Linked DNA regions of Homo sapiens. The protein of the gene in region 2 interacts with the protein of the main gene of each other region in a pairwise test. Each region holds a gene or a part of one and is shown on either strand. Other genes may lie near its edges.

Evidence for each region.
Region 1: the proteins of CTR9 (region 2) and SMAD9 interact in a two-hybrid assay, tested with the Homo sapiens proteins (one large-scale study listed by BioGRID and IntAct).

What each region holds. Positions count from the first base shown.
Region 1 is NC_000013.11:36,875,217-36,879,041, forward strand, and holds part of SMAD9 (mothers against decapentaplegic homolog 9), read right to left. Parts: intron 1-3,825. UniProt on the Homo sapiens protein: Transcriptional modulator activated by BMP (bone morphogenetic proteins) type 1 receptor kinase. SMAD9 is a receptor-regulated SMAD (R-SMAD).
Region 2 is NC_000011.10:10,768,225-10,772,049, forward strand, and holds part of CTR9 (RNA polymerase-associated protein CTR9 homolog), read left to right. Parts: intron 1-118; coding exon 119-267; intron 268-1,985; coding exon 1,986-2,102; intron 2,103-2,262; coding exon 2,263-2,408; intron 2,409-3,320; coding exon 3,321-3,392; intron 3,393-3,825. UniProt on the Homo sapiens protein: Component of the PAF1 complex (PAF1C) which has multiple functions during transcription by RNA polymerase II and is implicated in regulation of development and maintenance of embryonic stem cell pluripotency.

The DNA.
Region 1 (3,825 bases), on a different chromosome or scaffold from region 2:
AAAAAAAGGTAAATGTTTTGGAATAAACAGACAATTACAATAACAATGACATTAACCCCGAAGTCTGCCATCTGCCTTTGACACCATACATCTATCTCTTTCTTAACAAACAATAATTTTCAGTTATATGGACAGAAAATAAACTAAGAAGGGTAAATAAAAGGTTTTAAACTAAAACTGCTACAGGTGAGGGTGGCAGAGAAACAAATAATTTCTTCCCCTTTTCTAAGCTATTGTATACGTATGCTGCCTTATGACACCAGAGAACAAACATTCAACATCACCATCAAACAGTGACATGGATCATAAACCATTAAATTCCCCTTAATGTATTCATATTCCACAACTATGCAGGAAAAAAAAAGATTATGTGCCTCATGAATAGTCTGAAGTGAGGAGTTGACACAGCGAATGTGTATGGCTTCTTTGTCAATGACCCTTCATCAAAATGTTAACGATGTTCAAGTAAACACTCACTTCTTTATGAAGAAGAATTTGAATCATCTCTGTGACTTCAGTTTTAATGTAAAATATCTACGGTATATTCCTAACACTGATAAAAATATAATGCCTCCTATCCATCTGAATGTAGAGACTTCTATTTCTTCATGGCCTGTAGATCTGAGGCACCAAGAGAAAAGAAAGGATACATTTCCCTTTATCATAACAACTATCTTGATAATATATTTTTACCATCTGGGTAAAATCAAAGCCAGTGGATGTTTGCAAAGAAAACTGATAGTTTCATCCTAGTTGTTATTTGACCTGACTGGCTCCGTTGCCTTAAATGTGCACTGATCATATTTTTAAATACTTTCACTCACAACACAGCTATCCCTAATTACTTAATTCCACTTCCACATCTCAACTGCTGCTTGTAAATATGACAGTGCGCTTACAGACACTCATGCCTATCTTATGCCACTTTTAAACACCATGCTATCTTTACATCTCAGTGTCACACGGGGGGAGACAGCGGAAGGAGTTACAGGGCACATGGGCATGCAAAGCAGAGCTGGAAAAAAAACACTTCTGTCTTTTTAAAAAAAGTCATGTGGTTTTGATATAATATGAATATTTTATATAAAAAAGAAATTACACTCCTGAAATAACCTCCAGCCAAATGGAGTAAAATCATCATGTACCACAACAACAGTCTTGCATGGCTTCCACCAGAACTGTGCCAGGTAAAGTGTGTCTGAGGACTGGGGACCCTTCACCAACTGTTGGGTACGAGTCTGTGAAGAAATTAGTACTTAGAAACTTTTCACAGCAATTTGACAGAGTTTCTAGTTTACACTTGTTTAAATAATTTTTAAAATTGGGCTTATATTTTCTAAGTCTTTTTAAAATTTCATTTGCCTAGTAATTTGTCTGTACTATAAAAGTGTTCGTTTGAAGGACTGGAAATTAAAAAAATAAAAACTGATCCCTCACCACACATAACTTGGAAAGCACTGAAGTCAATTATTGAAGTGGATGTGTGAATGAAAAGAAAATGGGAATGCAGCCTTCAATGTATCTAAAATGGATGGCTAAAAAATGAGATTTCAAAGGCAAAACTTAAGCTTTATGATAAATAGGAACTCAGCAAACTTGTTTAACATTAACATTTTTATTATTCCTAAAATATTTACTTTAAATATGGATAGCTAACTAGATATAAAATCTACTTTTTCTATTAAAAAAACACAAGTAAGAAAAACCTCTGTAACTTAAATATTACCTTAAATTAATATAATCGTTACCCATCTTTCCTTCTGGAAATTCACACCTAAATTATGATAAAATGAAATATATTTACCATATGTAAAACACTCACACTATCATTCCTAAAAGAATCTTACAGAACATGAAAAACTAAAGGCCAGGTATGGTGGCTCATGCCTGTAATCCCAGCACTTTGGGAGGACGAGGCAGGTGGATCATGAGGTCAAGAGATCGAGACCATCCTGGCCAACATGGTGAAACCCCGTCTCTACTAAAAATACAAAAAGTAGCTGGGCATGGTGGCACGTGCCTGTAGTCCCAGCTACTCAGGAGGCTGAGGCAGGAGAATCGCTTGAACTGGGGAGGTGACGGTTGCAGTGAGCAGAGACTGCGCCACTGCACACCGGCCTGCCAACAGAGCAAGACAAAAAAACAAAAGACATGAAAAACTAAAATGTCAAATAGTTCTTTAAAATTAGGCTTTTGAATATTCAAAAGGAAAACCAGGTACATTTTACAAGATATTTCTTACAAGTTGTTAAATTTTACAACTACATTATTCAGGAAGACAGAAATGATTTATTAATGAACATTTTTCCATTTGGATATATTTTGGATGCTTAATGTAATTCAAATCTTTGAAACACAAAATGGAATCCAGTCATTTTTGTTATAAGCTTAGACATTATTGACTTTTTTTTTTAAGTAAGCGAAAAGAGTCAAAATGAACCAGGGAAGAAGGGTGGAAAGCAACTCGCTCCAGGATTTAGGGGAAACGCATCAGATTTGCCAAGCATGTGGAACCTTCTAATACCTTCTCAGCCAGGGCCTCAGTCCCTGAATGGGCTGTGGGAGGCATCCACACACAGGTAGATGTTAAGTTCTGGGAGCTTGAAGGATCACTTAGCTAAGACTGAGGTAGGCTGGGCATAAATCACTTATTGGATACTGTTTTAAGGTTAAGTGAACCTGCCTACGTAGACAGGACCATCTCTTCACTGGACATGGGCAATTTCCCTGAGCTAATGTGCCAGCGCTTTGGTTTCCTGGGATGAGGCAGATGGCCAAAGAGAGAAAGCTCTCCTAAAACTGTGTTCTTGTGTGAAATGCCACAGAAACACTCAATCTAAGAGAATCACAGTGAAACCCTGTTATAGCCAGTGTGAAGGAACAAAGACAAACACCAGGCTTCTCCAAGAGGAGGAGGAAATATATACATATTTCTTACACACATATATATAATATACATACACACACACACACACACAGGGGTGTGAAGGGTTTTAGAAAGATACTTTCCTATACAATCATGCACTGTGTAATCATGTTTTGCTTGAGGGACCAATATAAGACAGTGGTCCCCCAAGATTATGATACTGTACTTTTGCTGTACCTCTTCTATGTTTAGATCTGTTCATATACATTCAATACCATTGTGGTTAGGATTGCCTACAGTATTTAGTACAGTAGCATGCTGTGCAGGTTAGTAGCCTAGGAGCAATAGGCTACACCATATAGCCTAACGGTGTAGCAGGCTCATGGTTTGTGTAAGTACACTCCAGGGTGTTCACACAAGGAAGAAATTACTTACTGATGCATTTCTCAGAATGTATTTCCATCATTAAGTGATACCTGTCTGTACTTAAAACCATTTTTAAAAATAACTGCCTGGAATGATTTCCAGCAACTCTTTCATTGGCTGTTTTCAGACCTAGACATGAGATATCTTCTACTTACCTGAACTTGAACAAAGTAGCAGCCAAAAACCCTGCCTTAGTTCAGTTTAGTACAGTTCAGTTCAGTTGTTTGGGGCGGGGGGAGGAGGATGTTTAATTTTTACAGCTCATCATTATCAAGGCCATTTTAAAACCTTTCAGGACCCCAAGAACTGGTAAAAGATTATGTTGACTTGTCCCAGATACCTCAAAATAAAACTTTTATGGCAGTTTTCTCCGATTAGCCATCTGCCTCATTTTCAAAATCACACAAAGCTTACCAGCATAATGAAATCAAATGAAAATATCTTCTTTCTAGATTTTCCTGACTAGTTTATCTTCATTCCTTCACACTGGCTATAACAGGGTTTTACTGCGATTCTCTTTGGATTGAGTGTTC
Region 2 (3,825 bases):
TGTAAATCAGAATTTTTCTTAAAATGTGATCAATGTAGTTGTTTTAAAATAGAATTTTTAGTTGTTTTTCTGACTCCAATTAGAAAATTGTTAAGTGTGAACCTTTTTATATCTTTAGGAGCTGTTTTGGCCCACAAAGGATATTTTCGTGAAGCTCGTGATGTATTTGCCCAAGTAAGAGAAGCAACAGCAGATATTAGTGATGTGTGGCTGAACTTAGCACACATCTATGTGGAGCAAAAGCAGTACATCAGCGCCGTTCAGATGGTAATAGCTTCTCTTTCAAGATATTTTTATATCTTGTTCATTGTTAAGCAGATGTTTTCTTAGCCATTCTGGCCCTGTCATGGAGCTGCATGCTATCTCTTGTGATACTGTGTCTATTTAGAGATTTATAATTATATAATGCTAAGGCCAGGCTTTGGTATCCAGACAGAGATGTGAGTCCTGGTTCCACCACTAATTACATGCCTCAGGCAAAGGACATCCTTTCTGAGCCAGTTTTCCTATCTATAAAATGGAGATAATTGTACCTTAACTTCATAGAATTTTGTGAGGATCCCGTATGAAAACTACTTGGCACTAGCATGCCTAGCATATTAGTAATACCCAGTAAGTAGTAGGATTGAATATTTATTTGTGTATTCAGTTTCTGAAACTGAACTGTGAGTTTTAGAAAGGTTAAATGACTTATTTAAAAGAAAACAGGCCAGGCATGGTGGCTTACTCCTGTAATCCCAGCACTTTGGGAGGCTGAGGCGGCTGAGGCGGATGGATCACGAGGTCAGGAGTTCGAGACCAGCCTGGCCAACATGGTGAAACCCTGTCTCTACTAAAAATACAAAAATTAGCTGGGCATGGTAGCACGTGCCTGTAATCCCAGCTTACTCAGGAAGCTGAAACAGGAGAATTGCTTGAACCTGGGAGGCAGAGGTTGCAGTAAGCCAAGATCCTGCCACTGCACTCTAGCCTGGGCGACAAAGCCAGACTCTGTCTCGGGAAAAAAAAGAAAAAAGAAAACAAAACAGCGATAAGATTTAATGACTGTAGAATTTTTTTATGCTTACATTTGTTGAGTGCTTGAGCTCGAAATAAAAGTCATACTCAGCATCCATAAAATTAAAAAGTAAAAAGGATCTTCGGCTCTGTGGGATATATTATGGTCAGAAAGGAAAAGCTTACAAAAAGTAGACAAAAAGAGCAGTCCAGGCTCCTGAGAAGTGGTTTACCTTTTTCTAAAATGGGTGGGTTATTACCAATATTCAGAGTACTGGAAAGTCAATAATCACAGAAACTCACAGAACCTAGATTGCATATGGAGCTTCAGAGGTTGTGTTTTGTGAGGCTGGCCTTCCTGATCTGCTGAATGATAATGTTGTCTTTTATAAATGCAAATTAACTACTAGGGATATTCAGGAAAAAATGGTCTTAACCATTTTTCATGAAAAAGGTCTTACCTATGACAAGAGGTATTCCATGGTCAAAAAGTGCTATGTTCATGTCACAATTAACACTAGTATTGTATTGGTTTTACCAAGAAGTTAACAACCAGAACTGTAAGACTCCTCATGCTCATTGCCAGTAGGTTCTGCCCATTGTTAAGAAAGGTGTAGATGGTAAAACGCAAAGGACAACGGTGTATGACTTCTCATCAGTGGTCAATAAGCTGATTCTAGATAGTATTGCTAAAAGTATGAAAAAGGCTTTCCAGTCTGTTTACCCTTTCTTTCAATGTTGGTCCAAATTTCAAATGGAAAGAAACCATTTCAAGCATCTAGTTTTTCTAATGGTCAGATTTTTTATGTTGTGAAAATGTATCCTGATGAATGTCAAAAATCATTCCCCAAATTATTCTCTGAAATTAACCATTCAAAGGGTAAAACACCTTTTTACAGAGCTTTAAAATTGCAATGCCATTTTGCTACAAAATGAAAATGTCATTTATTCTTTGTTGTGTTTTAATTAACTTTTTTCTTTTACTGTAGTATGAAAACTGCCTCCGAAAGTTCTATAAGCACCAAAACACTGAAGTTGTACTCTATTTGGCCCGGGCCCTCTTCAAGTGTGGCAAGTTACAGGAATGCAAACAGACTTTGCTGAAGGTAAAAAGGAGAGATGTTATTCCCATCCATTTCTGTGCTACATTGTATTTTTTAATTCTTCGTGATGCGTGTTCACATACCTACTACTTAATAATACTCTGCTGTCTAAGATCCTTTTCATGTCATTTGAACATATGAAATATTTATTTTTTATTCACAGGCTAGACATGTGGCACCCAGTGATACAGTTCTTATGTTTAATGTGGCCTTGGTCCTGCAAAGATTAGCTACCTCTGTCCTGAAAGATGAAAAAAGTAATCTGAAGGAAGTACTTAATGCTGTGAAAGAACTGGAGCTTGCACATAGGTAAAGATTTTGTAGAAACAACCTATGAAATGCTTTATTTGGTCTATGACCATACCATCTTGAACTCTCCCGATTTTGTCTGAAATGCTTTGTTTAAAGCTATTTGTCTCAAGCTGCTGAAAATCACTTCCTTCTAAAGGTGGTCTATTAGAATCATTCCAGCAATAGTTAAGCCAAAGCAGATAGCAGCTGCCACCAGGTGGTGCCAAACTATAGTCAGGATCCTGCCAGATTTGGATCTTGTAGCTTGACCTCTAGAACTGGCTGGCTAGCTTTGCAAACTTGCCATAGATTTTTTATTAATCTGACAGTAATGTGACCCAGCATTTTACACATGTGAAATTTTTTGGACACTTACGTTGGTCTTCCATTTTACACCAATGTGTCTTTTAATGGGATGTTGATTTTCATTGAACTAGGATTAAGGTTTTACTTCTTAAATAATGCTTAATAGTTTTATTCAGTTCAGCTCAAAATTTATTTAGCCATATAGTATTTATATGGTGAGTCAGTGTGTGGTGAAATTAAAACCTGTCATCTCTTCAGGTTTTGTCCAACTTAATATTTTTATTCTTGTTTAACAATTCTTGCCTTGCCTGGTAAATTATAAGTGCTTTCATGGCCTGAGCCCCGTAACCTCCATCCTGACATATTTAGTAAATTTCATGTTTAGTAAATACTTGTTGCTTGAATTGCTTTGTGGTTATTTGTGAATTTACTGATAATATTAAATATAACTTAGACCATCTTGATGAACGTGTCTATTAAATGTAATGAGTGGCATAAATTTGTGTAAATCAGTCAATATGCAAACCTTTTCTCAGACTTTGTAGCACAGATTAAATTTTTTAAGAGCTTTATTTCATTAGAATCTCTTTTTTTAAAAGTGAAGTATTTTCTCGTTTCATTTAGATACTTCAGTTATTTGAGTAAAGTGGGAGATAAAATGAGATTTGATTTGGCCCTTGCTGCTACAGAAGCCAGGTAATGTTACTATTTATGGAAGGTGACTTTGGGTGAGGCAGTGATATTTACATGGGCTGGGAAAGTGCCACAGTAGGGAACAGAGGTTCCTGACCTTCCACAGGTCAGTCTTTCACACTTCTCTTGGGGACTCTCTAATCTTTGCCAGGACTTTTTCCTTTCAGGGAATTGGACAAAATTGCCTTAGTACAAGTACTTGAGTTCTGGGGGAAAATACTTTTCTATTTTACTTATGTCAGCTATGTCAGCCTAGTCAAGATAAAATTCATGACTCTGAGTTATATGTAAAGATAATGTTGGAAATCTTTTTAGCTGTGCTTTGAGAGGACATTTATAGTTTGGAAACTTAACATAGTTGGCAGTATTGGCTTATGATAAACTAAGTTAATTTTGCTAATTAAGACTCCATACATTGGTATGGTATGGCAAGTGT